Linked DNA regions of Homo sapiens: regions 1, 2 and 4 are each reported to be linked to region 3. Evidence: microRNA targets listed by miRTarBase, many of them from high-throughput screens and not tested one by one. Region 3 holds a microRNA gene; each other region holds the end of a gene's coding sequence.
The links. The annotated mature microRNA hsa-miR-34a-5p reads UGGCAGUGUCUUAGCUGGUUGU and lies in region 3 at 2,915-2,936, opposite strand. An mRNA with a match to its seed (bases 2 to 7 or 8) in the 3' UTR can be bound and repressed. Matches are read on the target gene's strand: a 7mer-m8 pairs with bases 2 to 8, a 7mer-A1 pairs with bases 2 to 7 and ends in A, and an 8mer does both.

Region 1 (4,065 bases), not on the chromosome of region 3:
ACCCTGAGTCCAAACGTCTGCGGCTCTGGGGTATTCAGCCCTCACCTTTCTGACTCCTCTCCTGATCTTCTACAGGAGACTGACAAACTGGAAGATGAGAAATCTGGGCTGCAGCGAGAGATTGAGGAGCTGCAGAAGCAGAAGGAGCGCCTAGAGCTGGTGCTGGAAGCCCACCGACCCATCTGCAAAATCCCGGAAGGAGCCAAGGAGGGGGACACAGGCAGTACCAGTGGCACCAGCAGCCCACCAGCCCCCTGCCGCCCTGTACCTTGTATCTCCCTTTCCCCAGGGCCTGTGCTTGAACCTGAGGCACTGCACACCCCCACACTCATGACCACACCCTCCCTAACTCCTTTCACCCCCAGCCTGGTCTTCACCTACCCCAGCACTCCTGAGCCTTGTGCCTCAGCTCATCGCAAGAGTAGCAGCAGCAGCGGAGACCCATCCTCTGACCCCCTTGGCTCTCCAACCCTCCTCGCTTTGTGAGGCGCCTGAGCCCTACTCCCTGCAGATGCCACCCTAGCCAATGTCTCCTCCCCTTCCCCCACCGGTCCAGCTGGCCTGGACAGTATCCCACATCCAACTCCAGCAACTTCTTCTCCATCCCTCTAATGAGACTGACCATATTGTGCTTCACAGTAGAGCCAGCTTGGGGCCACCAAAGCTGCCCACTGTTTCTCTTGAGCTGGCCTCTCTAGCACAATTTGCACTAAATCAGAGACAAAATATTTCCCATTTGTGCCAGAGGAATCCTGGCAGCCCAGAGACTTTGTAGATCCTTAGAGGTCCTCTGGAGCCCTAACCCCTTCCAGATCACTGCCACACTCTCCATCACCCTCTTCCTGTGATCCACCCAACCCTATCTCCTGACAGAAGGTGCCACTTTACCCACCTAGAACACTAACTCACCAGCCCCACTGCCAGCAGCAGCAGGTGATTGGACCAGGCCATTCTGCCGCCCCCTCCTGAACCGCACAGCTCAGGAGGCGCCCTTGGCTTCTGTGATGAGCTGATCTGCGGATCTCAGCTTTGAGAAGCCTTCAGCTCCAGGGAATCCAAGCCTCCACAGCGAGGGCAGCTGCTATTTATTTTCCTAAAGAGAGTATTTTTATACAAACCTACCAAAATGGAATAAAAGGCTTGAAGCTGTGGCCTGAGTGCCTCACTGGACCCAGAGGCCAATGGGAGAGTATTTGGAGCCCTAGGTCCCAGCCTTAGCTCTACAGACTCACTGCATGACCTTGGACAAATTCTTTGATATTTTTGGACTTTGTCTTATCTGACAAGTGGGGCTACATCCGCTCGGCCTCATCTCCGGGACTGAGGGGAGACAGTCCTCTGGGGTAAAAGCGAAGAGGCTTACCGCCCCTCTCCCCGTGGGGGCCCACAGTGCTGCTGCGTGTGCCACGGAGGGGCGCTGTTATGCCCCCTTCCAGCCTCAGAGGAGGCGGCCGAGTGGTTCTAGGCCCCCAGCACCTGCTTCCTGCCCCATTGTCTTGGACAGGAAGGAGCCGGGAAGGGAGCTGGAGCCACTTCAGGGGCTGGATTAAGGCCGGTCCCGGCGCCCGATGGGGGAAGTCTGGTTTACCACTGCCCCGCATCCCACCCCAGGCTCGAAGTAATGGGGGAATCATTAGTTCTGCAGTCCTTCTGGATGGGAATTGTACCCTGTATCAGCACCCCACCCTCGCCCCAACCCCGGCGAGTACCAAACAGACGCTGCCCAGGCCGTGGGCTCCGCTTCCGTCCGGGTTTATTACCCCCAATCCAACCCCCAGCAAGTCCCTCCGCTCCAGCCTTCAGTCCCCCTGCTGCCCTGCCAGCAAGAGCGAGGGGCCCTTCTTGGTGTCAGGATTTCTTAGTCCATGCCAGCGGCCCCTCCTGCGCAGCCAGGACGGCGTCCAGGTCCCGAGGTCCACAGCGGTCCCGGGGCTCGGGGAGCAATCCGGGCGGGCGTCGGCGTGGAGGAAGCAGTGCCTTCAATCATCGGGGGAACAGGCCAGGGGCAACTGATCCGGACTGCCCACGCTGCCAGTGCTGGAGCTTCCATCGCCTAGGTCGCGGGGCCCGCACGGGGGCAAGGCAAGCTCGGGTGCTGGCCCGGCTCCTGATCCCCCGGCGCCGCTGGGGCCGCCGCGGGGGCCCCATTCTTCGCCCAGCGCCAGGCAGAGCTCCTTAAGCGCTAGGTTCTCCCGCAGCAGCTCCTCCTGGCGGCCCTCCAGCTCGGCCAGCTTCTGCCAACAGCCGCCCAGGTCCTCGCGCACGGCCCGGGATGCTTGGGTCCCGAAGAGCTGCCACTGGCGTGCGGCGCGCCGCCCGCGCTGGCGCTCCGAGTCCAGGAAGCAGCAGAGGTCGCGCAGCTCACGGTTCTCTGCCTGCAGACGCCGGTTGAGCTGCTTGAGCTCGCGGATCTCGCCCAGGTGGCCCTGCAGCTGCCGATTCACCTCCTGCATGAGGCGGCCGCGCTGCACCAGTGCCGCCAGGCGCGCCGCCTCCTCCCGCCGCAGGCGCCGCACTAGCTCTTCCTTGCCTAGCGCCGCCATCTCCTCGTCCGTCAGCTCCTCCAGGCCGCCTGCCTCGGCCTCCATGGCTGGTCAGGCCTCTGGAGCATCGCCCGCCCGCCGCCGCGGCCCAGGAGCCCCACGTCGGGCCCGGCGCCACTCAGGCTCGGGCTCCGGCTCCGCACGCGGCAGGCAGTGGCCGAGGCAGCGTAGGCTGCAGCAGCTACCCGGGCTGGGCACGCGGCGGGGCGCGCGCCGGGGCGGGGCCGCATGTCGTTATGGAAGGACAGCCAATCCGGTGAAACGTCCCCGGAAAGGGGCGGGGCCTGAGCTCAGGGGCCGCCCCCCTCGTTCCCCACCCACTCCGGGTGTTACTGATCCTCGATGTCAAGGAACCCGCGCGTCATCGCCCTCCACATCGGTCTCAACCCGAAACTAGGAGCTTCGAACCTCCAAGTACCGGATCGCCCCAAGCTTGAGCCTAGGCCTCTCGGCTCTTCTGAGAAACAAGATTCAGGCGTCCGCCCCTGACTCCTGCCCATCCCCCACAGAAGTCAGATGGACCGCTCTCCAGTCCCTCTTTACCTTTGATCAAATTCGGAAGTCTCGGCCCACTAAGGATCGCTCCTGGTTCCTCGGAACCCTGAGTCCAAACGTCCTAGCTCACCAATAGACTACCCTCCCTCCCAGGGAGCGTTTCCTGCCTGGGGGGAGGAACATACAGGATTCGTTTGTTCAATAAACGTTTTTTATGTGCAAGGCCCATGCAGAAATAAATTTAACCAAAATACCGATTCCATCCTCAAGGAGGTCGCAGTCTGTCCGGGAAGTCAAGCTGTGTTAAGCAAGAAATAAATCCGGGAGGAGTATGGTCTGAGGGTCCTTAAGAGGGTTCCCAAAAGAGATGCTATCCAAGAGGCTCTGGTAGATCCATAGGACTTTGCCAAGTAAAGAGCTATTTCAGGGAGAGAGAATAACATAGTGAAAGACACTGGTGCCCGAAAGAGCCTAGCTGCTTTAGGAACAATGAGGATAGCTTGGTTTTTGAAAAGCAGATGTGTCGAGAAAATGCTAAGAGAGAGAGAGCGAGGCTTCAAAGGTAGGTAAAAGCCAGATTCTTAAGAACTTCCAGTACCAGGTTGGAGCATTTCCAAAGGCCACTAAGGATGTTAAGCAAGAGAGTAACATTTGTAAGGATGTTAAGCAAGGGAGTAACATTTTAAAATATGCCTTTAACTGGCCAAGATGGTGAAACCCCGTTTCTACTAAAAATACAAAAATTAGCCGGGCGTGGTGGGAGGAGCCTGTAATCTCAGCTACTCGGGAGGCTGAGGCAGAGAACTGCTTGAACCCGGGAGGCGGAGGTTGCAGTGAGCCGAGATCGCGCCACTGCACTCCAGCCTGGGCGACAGAGCGAGACGCTGTCTCGAAAAAAAAAATGTATTTAAAAAGATTGGGCTGATCTGTGTGGGCCGGACCCTGCGGGGAGGGGACATAAACAGGGAGATTAGTAACGGTGTCAAAGAGCAAGAGCAAGGAGAGCTAAGCAGAAAGACGGCTGGGG
Region 2 (4,065 bases), not on the chromosome of region 3:
AGAAGCTAGAGGGCCAGGGCGGGCCATTCCCCTGGGTGGCCGTGTGCGCCGGGGTCATCCTTGTCCTCATGCTGCTGCTGGGCTGTGCCGCTGTGGTGGTCTGCGTCCGGCTGAGGCTGCAGAAGCACCGGCCCCCAGCCGACCCCTGCCGGGGGGAGACGGAGACCATGAACAACCTGGCCAACTGCCAGCGTGAGAAGGACATCTCAGTCAGCATCATCGGGGCCACGCAGATCAAGAACACCAACAAGAAGGCGGACTTCCACGGGGACCACAGCGCCGACAAGAATGGCTTCAAGGCCCGCTACCCAGCGGTGGACTATAACCTCGTGCAGGACCTCAAGGGTGACGACACCGCCGTCAGGGACGCGCACAGCAAGCGTGACACCAAGTGCCAGCCCCAGGGCTCCTCAGGGGAGGAGAAGGGGACCCCGACCACACTCAGGGGGTGCGTGCTGCGGGCCGGGCATCAGGAGGGGGTACCTGGGGGGTGTCTTCCTGGAACCACTGCTCCGTTTCTCTTCCCAAATGTTCTCATGCATTCATTGTGGATTTTCTCTATTTTCCTTTTAGTGGAGAAGCATCTGAAAGAAAAAGGCCGGACTCGGGCTGTTCAACTTCAAAAGACACCAAGTACCAGTCGGTGTACGTCATATCCGAGGAGAAGGATGAGTGCGTCATAGCAACTGAGGTCAGTGCAGGCAGCAGCCGCTCCCTCCTCCTCGGCATGGGAGCACCTGAAGCTGGAGCACGGGAATCGGTCTCAGGCTAACTTCCCATTTGTCTTGTGGCCCCCCAGGTGTAAAATGGAAGTGAGATGGCAAGACTCCCGTTTCTCTTAAAATAAGTAAAATTCCAAGGATATATGCCCCAACGAATGCTGCTGAAGAGGAGGGAGGCCTCGTGGACTGCTGCTGAGAAACCGAGTTCAGACCGAGCAGGTTCTCCTCCTGAGGTCCTCGACGCCTGCCGACAGCCTGTCGCGGCCCGGCCGCCTGCGGCACTGCCTTCCGTGACGTCGCCGTTGCACTATGGACAGTTGCTCTTAAGAGAATATATATTTAAATGGGTGAACTGAATTACGCATAAGAAGCATGCACTGCCTGAGTGTATATTTTGGATTCTTATGAGCCAGTCTTTTCTTGAATTAGAAACACAAACACTGCCTTTATTGTCCTTTTTGATACGAAGATGTGCTTTTTCTAGATGGAAAAGATGTGTGTTATTTTTTGGATTTGTAAAAATATTTTTCATGATATCTGTAAAGCTTGAGTATTTTGTGATGTTCGTTTTTTATAATTTAAATTTTGGTAAATATGTACAAAGGCACTTCGGGTCTATGTGACTATATTTTTTTGTATATAAATGTATTTATGGAATATTGTGCAAATGTTATTTGAGTTTTTTACTGTTTTGTTAATGAAGAAATTCCTTTTTAAAATATTTTTCCAAAATAAATTTTATGAATGACAACCAGAAGGCGTAGTTACTTGGCTTTGCCTTAGAGCGGAGGTGTGCTCACTCACCTGCGGCCCGCGAGGCTGAGGGCAGAGGTGGCCTTGGTGTTTCTCTTTTCAAGGCTTTGGTTTCCCTGGATCCATGAGAAGCAGCCCGTTCCTCTCCTCCCTCAGGAAGCTGCTTGCTGGCCATCATGAGGTGACTTGGTAAGAGCAGGCACGCGCATGAAGCAGCCGCGATTTTCTAATTCCATCCCCCCATGCATTTATTAGTTCTTTCCGCAGAAAGAATGAGCGTTCCTCATTCATTCATTCATTCATTCATTCATTCATTCATTCATGTCAGTGTAGACTTGTGAGTTATTTTGTACCCAGTGGGTCACAGCTGTCATGATTTTGTCGCCGTTTGACGCCAACATGGCCCCAGACGGGGCGTGGGAGTCACGGAAGCTGCTCCTCCGCTTCCCGTCGGTGGGCAGCCCCGTCTCTAAGCGCGTCCCGCCTGCTGGCTCAGCAGGACCGCACGGGCTCCCTGTGGGCTGACCCCTCATTTGCCGCTTTGCCCCCCGCTAAGCCCGGGTTCCTTATGGTAGTGATTGCATTTTTAACTTGCGCGTACCTCAAAGCGCTGAGCGGTTCCCAGGATGGAAAGAGGGCGACCGATGTAGCAGGAGCTGCGCGGAGGCACTGGCGCTCACTCCCCTCAGACCCGACTCCGCTTGCATTTCCTCCTTGCATTAAGGGCACGTTAAATGCCAGGCCAGCAACACCAGCAAAGAGGAGAAGTGTTTTGCTAAGAACATTGAGCTTGAATCCGATGACAGCTCTCAGTCTCATTACCAGTTACGGAAACACGGGACTGAAAACTCCTTCCTCGACGCCCCACGCATCTGCGCAGCCGAATCCAGGGAACTCTGTAGCCAAATAAATTGCAAGGAAAAAACAAGAAAATGGTGAGGGGGAACCCATAGATACAAAGAGACACGGACATATCAATCCATCGCAGCGTCTGGATCTGGTTCCTGTTTCAAACAGTTTAAAAATTTTATGAACCCACTGGAGACATGTAAGCGCTGACTGGGATATCCACATGATTTTAAAGTGCACCTGCTAAATAGTTTAGATGTGATGTGTTATTACTGTTCAGTTTAAAAAGAGACCTTATCTTTTAGAGAAAATTCTGAAATATTTATGGATGAAACAATACGAGGCCTGGGACTGATTCGGAGCCCCCCGCCGCGGGCACGGTGGCACGGGGAGTCCCACGAGCACTGCTGGGGGTCGCTGCAGCTGGGAGTGGCCCATGGGGGCGCTCACTTCCGTGTTCTTTCCTCTTTCGTACACGTTTGAAACTTCCCATAAGCAAAAGCATTAAGCCGGACCATACAGTGAATACACGCACACGCAAACACGACAGTTTCCGGGTGTGTATGGACCGCCGTGTCTGTGACGTGACCCACAGCAGAATGCATCTGAGGGAGGCTTGCTGTGGTTGCATACGCACATCGCAGATGAGAAATCTTACAAGGCCAAAAGCAAGCCAATTAAACTGGGTGGAGAGCGGGAGTCCGGTCAAGGACGCTGGTAGCAGAGTCTCAGGCTCGCTGGTGGCGCGCCTAGGTGATTGCCCACTCTGCTGAGTCCTTGAAAGGGAAACGGCAGCGTCTGCAGCAGTGCTGGGAGCACCTCCTCCCGTCTGCAGGGGACGGTGCCTTTCAGGGCACGGTTCTGCGCATGTGCTCAGCTGGCGCCAGCGAACGGCTTCCGGCTGCTCTTAGCGTGGAGTTCAAAATCCTTGACTTGGCCTCTCAGGTCATGCACCATCCGGCTCCCGCCTGTCTTGGAGCCTCGTTTCGTTATTCTCCCACGGGTCTGTTACCGCTCGGCTCCAGCCAGCGCCCTGGCAGCCTGGTTCTCCATCCGCCCCCACTCTGCGACTTTGAGTGGGATCTTCCATCTGTCTGGTGACTTCCAGTGTGACCTTCTTCCGCCACGAAAATGACCCGCCTGGGTTACCTGCCGCACGTGATGGTGCTCTTGCAGTTTGCCCTGTGGCATGATTAATTCGTGTAGCTGTTTGTTTAGTGGGCGTGTGTCCCAGGAGACTGCAACCTCAAAGAGGGCGGGCTGTGTTGGCCCTGGTTCACCACTGCAACCCAATCCCCACTTGAGGCTGAAGCAAGAAAACGTTCTCTATCCATGTGAGCTATAATTTGAGAACACACAGACACACACTCAGGACATTTCATCATGAAAGAAGCTTCATTCTCGTGTTCACTCTTACCAATGTCACTAGGAGTTTCGAACCATAACATGAAGCCAAACACAGGGATTATCTGAGCGGATGAACATAGTATTCTGTTTTTATTCTAATAACTGGCTGCCTAGATACAGCCCTGTATATGGTAAGAGTGCGTCTACTTGGTATCCAGCAAACAAAGTGTTATGCATTAGTAATTCCTCAGTCCATGCATTTTACAGAAAAGGCAGAGGGAAGGTAAATCGTTTCCTGAGGAACAGCTGAATGTCTAGAAACGTCAAGATGAAGAGTAGAATTTTGCATGCAAGGACACGCGCCATGAGCACCAGGCCTCACACGCAGGAGGCA
Region 3 (4,065 bases):
GCCCCTCTCATCTTCTAGAATTTCTAGAAAGATAAAGAGCTAGATAAGCATCTAGGTACCTTTCTTCTGCTGTTAGCTCTAAAGACAAGTGAATATATCCTAGCTAGGATGTACTCTAAGGAATGCAGAAGTAGGCCGAGTGCAGTGGCTCATTCCTGTAATCCCAGTGCTTTGGGAGGCCGAGGTGGGCGGATCACCTGAGGTCAGGAGTTTGAGTCCAGCCTGGTCAACATGGCAAAGCCCCGTCTCTACTAAAAATACAAAAATTAGCTGGGCGTGGTGGCGGGTGCCTGTAATCCCAGCTACTCGGGAGGCTGAGGCAGGAGAATCACTTGAACCCCCAAGGCAGAGGTTGCAGTGAGCTGAGATGGTACCACTGCCCATTTCAAAAAAAAAAAAAAAAGAATGCAGAAGTAAATTAAATGACCACAAAGAGTTTTTTTTAATTTGAGACAGGGTCTGGCTCTGTCACCTAGGCTGGAATACAGTGGCGCAATCTCAGCTCACTTCAATCTGTGCCTCCTGGGCTCAAGCCATCCCCTGACCTCAGCCTCCTGAGTAGCTGGGACTACAGTCCTGCCACTATGCCTGGCTAATTTTTGTATTTTTTGTAGAGATGTTGCCCAGGCTGGTCTGAAACTCCTGAGCTCAAGGGATCCATCCACCTGGGCCTCCCCAAGTGCTGGGATTACAGGCATGCGCCACCGTGCCCAACCCAGACATCACTTTTATCTGAAGCAACAACTATCTGCTCTTTCTGTTTCCTTACTAATTATCCAGGAACTTTTACAGGTGAACTCTGAGGAGGACAATTTTTATTGTTTTTATGTCAGCATAACTAAAAGTAAAGCTGGATAGGAAGAGGTTACTTGAAAATGATTTCACCTGAACTCAAATGAATAAGCTGGCTACTGCATAAAGCAACAGAGGGGTCCCTTTAATTTAAAAGCTCAGGACTCTGAATCAATTGCTGGTTGGGAGAAGGTAGAGACATTCTTTACTTCTGCCTAGAACTGGGGAAAATGGCGTAGACTTCTGCTCTGAAGCAGTCCTCAGTGCTGCTTCGGTCAGAACTCCCGAGAGGCATCTGAGTGCTGGCCTGTCACTGCGGCTGGCATTCCAGGCATTTCATTGGCCCCACTTCAGCCCACGCCTGGCTCCACGGGGCTGGGCAGCTGAGGGGAGTTTGTGGCAGAGTGGGCATGGGGCACGGCCCGTGCAATGTGCGTTACAAAGGGGCTCTCTCTGAAGCAAGTCCTCTGCACTCCAGTCTATTTGAGGAAGAAAAGGACAATTCCCATAGGGAGGGGGTTTGCTGAAGCAACCAGCTGCCTGGTTTCCTCTCCAGCATTGAGAGGGAGGGAGGGCTGGCTTAACTGGGGGACGGCCTTCTCATCTGGACTGTGTCAAGGCCAAGGTTAGGCTCCAAATTCCAGAAAACCTCTCTGCAGGGTCTTCTTTCAGAGTGGTGAGAATGGAAGCAGGCTCCCTTCCCCTCCAGCACTAGGAAGCCCCGCAATTGGTGAGGTGCAAAGAAAGATGGGCCCAGGCAGGGAGGCGGGAGCAGGGGAGGTGCCCAGGGCAGTGGCTGGAAGGGCAACGGGAGAAGCAGCAGAGGCTGGGGGTGGGGGTCGCAGCAGGTGCTGTCCCTGGCCTGTGTGAAAGGTACTAGAAGGCCCCATCCTTGGTGCCACATGGACCCCAGAGGCTTGTCTTAGTCCATGGGGTCCGAGGTGTAAGACACTTACGTTTGGCGTCACCTCTTAGGCTTGGATGAATTTCAGAAAGTGCTAGACTGGAGAACAGTGGAAAAAATCAGTGGAACAAGATCTGGAGCACTCACTGCTCAATGTCAATGTTAGAGAGCACAACGACACCAATGGGAGGAGGGTGAGGACCAGAGGCTGATTGCATGAGCTCTGTTGGAGTGCAGGACCCACTAACGGGTTATCTCAGGGTTCCTGGAGGCCACGGCTGTGCCTTGTGGTCCAAGACCTGGGGAAGCCACCACTGTGTCTTCCCTCTCCATCCTCCGGTGACTTTGGTCCAATTCCTGTTGCCATGGCAATCAGCCCAGCTGGCCTCACAGTTCACTGGCCTCAAAGTTGGCATCTGTAGGTGAAGCCAGTGGGACCCAGAGAACTTAATTCTTCTCAACTGAGCTGGCTTGGAGGAACTTTTCTCATCAGCCACTGGAGCAGAGAACGTCACCAGCGTCTCACTGACGTCAACATCCTGGGCCTGGCTCTAGCTGAAAAGGAAAATTCTCCCCAAGGCAGACACATCTCCCGAAGCCCACACAGGCACTTTCTATGATTGCACTGGAAATCTGTCTCCTGGGGACAGGGAGCGCGTACGCTCACAGTCAAGTCACAATGTTGAGCAGTCTCCAGGACTCCACGTTCATCTCTAAGAACAGGAGCCGGTGGTTGGGCGCAGATTCTTGAGCCAGATTGCTCGCGTTCAAAACCTGGTCCCTTTTTATTAATTGCATGCTTAGTTACATTTTCTGTTTGTACTTTTGTTTCCTTCTCTGCAAGACGGGGTTAATCACAGACACTTGTACATGATGTAATACACTTACAATACTTAGGACAGGCCTTCCTGCATAGTAAGTGCTCTGCAAACACTGGCTACTATTCTCCCTACGTGCAAACTTCTCCCAGCCAAAAGCCGCCCACACCAAGCCCCTGTGCCTTTTTCCTTCCGCACCCACGAGCAGGCTGCTCCTGGGGCCCTGGAGCTCACTTTCCCAGCCGCCCTCACCACCCACCGTGGCGCAGAAGAGCTTCCGAAGTCCTGGCGTCTCCCACTGGTCTGGGCATCTCTCGCTTCATCTTCCCTCTTGGGCCCCACAACGTGCAGCACTTCTAGGGCAGTATACTTGCTGATTGCTTCCTTACTATTGCTCACAACAACCAGCTAAGACACTGCCAAAGAAACACTCACAGCTGGCCGGTCCACGGCATCCGGAGGGGACTCGGGGGACAGGCCTGTCCTGCCTCTCCCCAGCACCTGTTGATAAGAAGGAAATGTGGGGAGGAAAGAAAGGATGCAGGAGGCCGAGGTGGGAGGATCGCTTCAGGCCAGGAGTTCAAGACCAGCCCAGGCAACTAGCAAGACTCCATCTCTACAAAAAAATTTTAAAAATTAGCCAGGCATGGTGACATGCGTGCCTGTAGTCCTAGCTACTGGAGAGGCCAGGGCAGGAGGATCGCTTGAGCCCAGGGGTTGAGGCTGCAGGGAGCTGTGATTGCGCCAGTCTGGGTGACAGGGTGAGACCCCGTCTCTAAAAATAAAAATTGGGTGATGGCTCACACCTGTAATCCCAGCAATTTTGGAGGCCAAGACAGGAGGATCACTTGAGGCGAGAAGTTCAAAACCAGCCTGGTTAACATAGCCAGACCACCACCTTCAGCAACTGTCTCTACAAAATGAAAATAAAAATAATGAAAGAGAGAGGATGGAGGAGAAGGCTGAGACCAGTAACAGATTCCAAAAGGACTAATTGACAAGGAGAAAAAGAGTCAGCACTTCCCTGGAAGAGAAAAAATTCGAAAAGGACAGTGGTTGAAAAGTCAGCATGTCTGCGTGAAAGGGAAGCAATGAAGTAGCGCCAACTCCTCCCCCGTCCCGGGCACCGTTTAGGGAGAGGATCAGAGTTCTGCCAGAGAATCAGAACCAGAAGGAGATATAGATTAAGTTTATTTCAAGGAATCGGCTTACGTGATTGTGGGGGCTGGCTAGGCAAGTCTGAAATCCAGAGGGCAGGCCAGCAGGCCGGAAGCTCCCCGGAGGAGCTGACACTGCAGTCCCCAGGCAGGATTTCTTCTTCTTCAGGGAAACCTCGGTTCTGCTCTTGAGGCCTTTCAACCGATTGCATGAGGCCCACCCACCTCGCAGAGGAGAACCTTTGACTTACAGCCAGTGATCATCAGTGCTGACCACATGTACAACGCACCTCACAGTAGCACCCAGGCAAGCGTTTGGTTGAATCATGGGTATCACAGCCTCGCTAAATTGACAAGGAAATTGCCCATCACAGGGTTTAAGATCTAGTGCTTT
Region 4 (4,065 bases), not on the chromosome of region 3:
AACACCGTAGAGTGTATTAATTCCATGTTTGGGGGCTAAGTTGTTTGTAATTAAATGATTCTTGCTGAGATAACTTGGTTTAAATCCTCTACCATTTACAAGCTATTTGAACTTAGATAAGTCGTTTAAGCTTTTTGAGCCTTTGTAAAATGTAAGAAATGTTAGCTTTGTTGTGAGAATTAGAGATACTACATATAATATGCCTGGAATGCAGCAGGCACTTAATAAATAATAACCATTTTGGTAGTGGTGGGATAGGCGATTGGGCTTAATGTATAATGATGCCAGAGGTTTTATTAAATTGTTGAAACAAATTCATTAGATAAGCATTTTGTGTAATGAGGACTGAGGAGTGGAAACGCAGTTCCACCTAACATATGTGTTCTTCTTTCATTTCTTTCTCTAGTCTTTGAAGCCATCAAATCATGCTACCATCCAGAGTATAGTGAGAGCTGTGGGGGTCGTTCCTGGGATTCCTGAGCCTTGCTGTGTACCAGAAAAGATGTCCTCACTCAGTATTTTATTCTTTGATGAAAATAAGAATGTAGTGCTTAAAGTATACCCTAACATGACAGTAGAGTCTTGCGCTTGCAGATAACCTGGCAAAGAACTCATTTGAATGCTTAATTCAATCATTAGTTTATTTTTATGGACTTCTTCCTGTTTTTTTTTTTTTTTTTTTTGCACTGCCAATGCATTTTGTTTCAAAAGATTATTTCTATAGTCAGAGGGGAATGAGCAAATAGACTGAAGATTGCCACCAAGGAAAAGAACTGTATTTGTTTCTGAATGTAACTTAAAGCAAGATTTTTAGTAAATATGGACATCTATTTCTCTTTTTGTAATCAAACACAACAACTTATCAAACTGTTTTTAGAACTGTTAGAGAACACACTGGTTTATTTTTGTAATGTTCTTTGAAAACAGAATGGAGAAGCAGCAATAGCTTGTCATTTATCTCATTTAATGACTAATGGGAAATAGAGAACAATTTCGCGTTTTGAATTAGGCTTATTGCCTTAGAATCCTGAGAAAGTGCTAAATAATCAACTCTGATGTTTTTCTTAAGTTCTTGAGACTCTTGTTTATCCTTGTTTTTCCTCCACAAGTCATTGTCTAAGTGTAATGGAAAGTTTATGCTGAGCGTTAGTGTGTATGTATGTGCGTACATGCGCCAGGTGCCTGTGCCCTCTGTAGGATGGTTTGCTTAATATGGTTTTATAATTCAGTTTACACAGGATTCTTTATTTTTTTTAATTTTGTATTTTGGCAAACACCATTCAGTTATAAGAACTTTGCCAAATATGATAGAATAATTCAAGAGCATATACAGAGAGTTACCACTTGACCCAGCTATTTAATTGCAAATACAGTTGTTTTCATTTCATTTCCTACCAGAAAAAGGAATCAGAAACCTAGTTTTTGAAAACACAAGTGTAATTCCTCTTTTGTACTTCTTTTTCACAAATGCTTTTATTTATTCTAAATTGAATTTAAAAATCCTTCCTAAAGCCATTAACTCTTTAATTCTCCTGATATGCCTTTACTTCCTATGAAGTTATTGGTAGATGTTGAGGCCCAAAAACTGGTAGAATATTGAAGATCTTCTTAAATGACCAATTTAACCATAACCAAATATTGAATATCATTCTTCAGTCACATCTAAGTCAGGCACTTTTTCACATAGATCAGGGCTTTTGGCTCAGTCACGAAATCTACAAGTTAGCAAAGCTTACAAAACATTATTCGTCAGGTATGGGAATCAAATATAGACACTTGTTTGTCTTTGCTTTCCATTTCTATGTGTCACATACATATATGTGTCCTCTTATAACTTTAGTCTTCAAAATTATTTCAATATCCTTCTTCTCACTATATTTATTTGTGTGATGGAAATGCTTTCAGGCCGTAGATCATTGTTGGTGTTAATCTGTGGTTAATCCTCATTTTAGTTCCGTCTTATCTGATACTTAGAAATATCTCAGCCATTTTGGAGGCTGTGCAGTATCAGAAGACGTGGAGTTTGTTCTGTCTCTGCCTGTAGCTAATTATGGTGGTTCAGTCATTTAATAAATATGTTTTGAGCATCTATTTTGTGAAAGGCACTGTGTTACCTGTGTGTCTTTAGTGTCCTCACTGGTAAAATGAAGAGGCTGGCCATGAGCTGGAAGGGTTAAGTTTATAATTCCAGCTATTTCACACCCGTCTTCCTTGAAGGAATGATAGTGATAGATATAAAAACACTGTAAGTCCCTCTTTTAATAAACTAAATGAAAGAACATCCTATACTTCGCTGTTTGTAAATTAGTATGGCATTCGCTTTGGTTTAAGTGGTATTTTATTGCAAACCCATTAAAAGAATAACTCATGAAAAGAAGCTCTTTGACACCTTGGGGTACACAAATGTTGGTGTGGGTGTGTGTTAATTCTGTGAGTGAGACACACCAGTTCTAAAAAAAATGAGTGAAGTTCTGGTGCCTGAGTTACCATGCTTTCTTCTAGTTCTTACAGTAGCATAAAATTAAAGATTCAAAGTGAGATGGAGGATAAAATTACTTTTTAATACATGTTCTCAAACATTTGAAAATAAAAGTATATGATAGAAGGGGGCCAGAGTGTGGCCACCATCCTGATCGTACTGTTTTTCAATAAAGAAAACTTTTTCATTGGTAGATTTGGTGAAATTCTAAATTTAGGTTTTTTTCTAGAGCTGTATCAACCAAAACTTCTGGCAATTCCCAGTATCACTTCTTAGCCTTCTTATATCCAAATGCCTGTTTATTACCTTTCTTAATTTGAATCAATGCCTAGTTATTACAGATTGCACCCCACAATGGCCAAAAACCCACTACATAATAAAATTTACAGGTACTAACTAGTTAAGATTATATTTTAAGTAGCAATTGATATAAAATTACAACACAATGAAAGAACTTGGGTAATCTCTTAGCAATGGAAATAGGTTTTAACCAGCAGTTTTTCTGGGTGCTTTGTAACTATCATTTTACTAATGAATTGAGGATGTATTATGGTTTAAATTGGAAGAGTTTTATTCCCAAAGAATAAAGCAAGATTATCTTTCAGTAGTAGAGATTGAAGTAAATGTATTAATATTTTAATTAATACAGATTTACTAAGAGTAGTTAGAAAATTTAGTAAGTGCCTGTTTTACAAATTGTTAGGTACTAGTTTCTGTATAATTCCTACACAGAAGCTTTAGAAATCTCCTGATATTAAATTATTAAATTGGCATTCATGAAAAGAGAAGCTACAATTATAAACTCCATTTGCTAAATCATGCATAATACTCTCTCTCTCTCTTCCCCCACAAGTAATCTCTCTACCCCATGCAGTGTGCACACACACACACACACAGTCAGTTACTGAAAAAAATAATTCTTTTTCTTTTTTTTTTTAAATGGAGTTTCACTCTTGTCGCCCAGGCTGGAGTGCAGTGGCGTGATCTCGGCCCACTGCAACCTCCACCTCCCAGGTTCAAGCAGTTCTCCTGCCTCAGCCTCCTGAGTAGCTGGGATTACAGGTGTCCGCCACCATGCCTGGCTAATTTTTTTATTTGATAAAAAGAATTCTTTTTCTCAATAACTGTTCTCTTGAATTCAAATTAAGGGACTGCCAAAGTCAATTAGAATATTTTAAAAATACTTTGTTGTAACCTGTGTAAATAATATACAATTTACAGGATTTGGGATTGTAGAACTTAAACTGGAAGACTGGATTCCTCAGATCTCAGGACTATAACATTCCAGATAAATTTTTACATTCCCTTTGCTGTATATTAACTGATGATCATTTATATGTTAAGATTTTTTACCTTAATATTTCTGAATAAAACTCTTATTGCCCATTTAATATTTTCATAGGCAATCAAATGTGAGTAATACTGCTAAGAGTCTGATTTATTAAAAATATTTGTATAATTCATTCAGTTTAGTTTTTCAGTTTAGTCTTTCTGCTTTCACTTTTCTCTGTGCTAACAAGTAACTAATGTCTGGGCATTGACTTCTTATTGAATCAAAGTTGGGTTAGGCATAGCTATGCACACCT

Region 1: the mRNA of FOSL1 is a reported target of hsa-miR-34a-5p. Seed matches in the 3' UTR shown: 8mer at 815-822 and 8mer at 916-923.
Region 2: miRTarBase lists DLL1 as a target of hsa-miR-34a-5p. Seed matches in the 3' UTR shown: 7mer-m8 at 1,002-1,008, 7mer-m8 at 1,098-1,104 and 7mer-m8 at 1,161-1,167.
Region 4: miRTarBase lists BMP3 as a target of hsa-miR-34a-5p. Seed matches in the 3' UTR shown: 8mer at 685-692 and 7mer-A1 at 3,630-3,636.

The regions. Positions count from the first base shown.
Region 1 is chr11:65,889,307-65,893,371 of GRCh38, reverse strand. It overlaps FOSL1 (FOS like 1, AP-1 transcription factor subunit), which reads left to right. Exons shown (of 4, transcript NM_005438.5): 4 at 76-1,323. The coding sequence ends at 486. CCDC85B (coiled-coil domain containing 85B) reads right to left here and starts at 2,699. Exons shown (of 1, transcript NM_006848.3): 1 at 1,737-2,699. The coding sequence starts at 2,588. The coding sequence ends at 1,980. RefSeq lists enhancers at 1,039-1,198, 1,239-1,288 and a silencer at 2,429-2,908.
Region 2 is chr6:170,279,614-170,283,678 of GRCh38, reverse strand. DLL1 (delta like canonical Notch ligand 1) reads left to right here. Exons shown (of 11, transcript NM_005618.4): 9 at 1-448; 10 at 574-691; 11 at 800-1,473. The coding sequence ends at 805. Among named protein-coding and RNA genes, the nearest start is that of LINC01624, 9.2 kb to the right of the region's middle. RefSeq lists an enhancer at 336-1,535.
Region 3 is chr1:9,148,821-9,152,885 of GRCh38, forward strand. It overlaps MIR34A (microRNA 34a), which reads right to left and starts at 2,957; the gene lies at 2,848-2,957. MIR34AHG (MIR34A host gene) reads right to left here. Exons shown (of 2, transcript NR_132742.1): 2 at 1-3,015. RefSeq lists a silencer at 2,766-3,002.
Region 4 is chr4:81,052,939-81,057,003 of GRCh38, forward strand. It overlaps BMP3 (bone morphogenetic protein 3), which reads left to right. Exons shown (of 3, transcript NM_001201.5): 3 at 407-4,065. The coding sequence ends at 598. Among named protein-coding and RNA genes, the nearest start is that of BMP3, 24 kb to the left of the region's middle.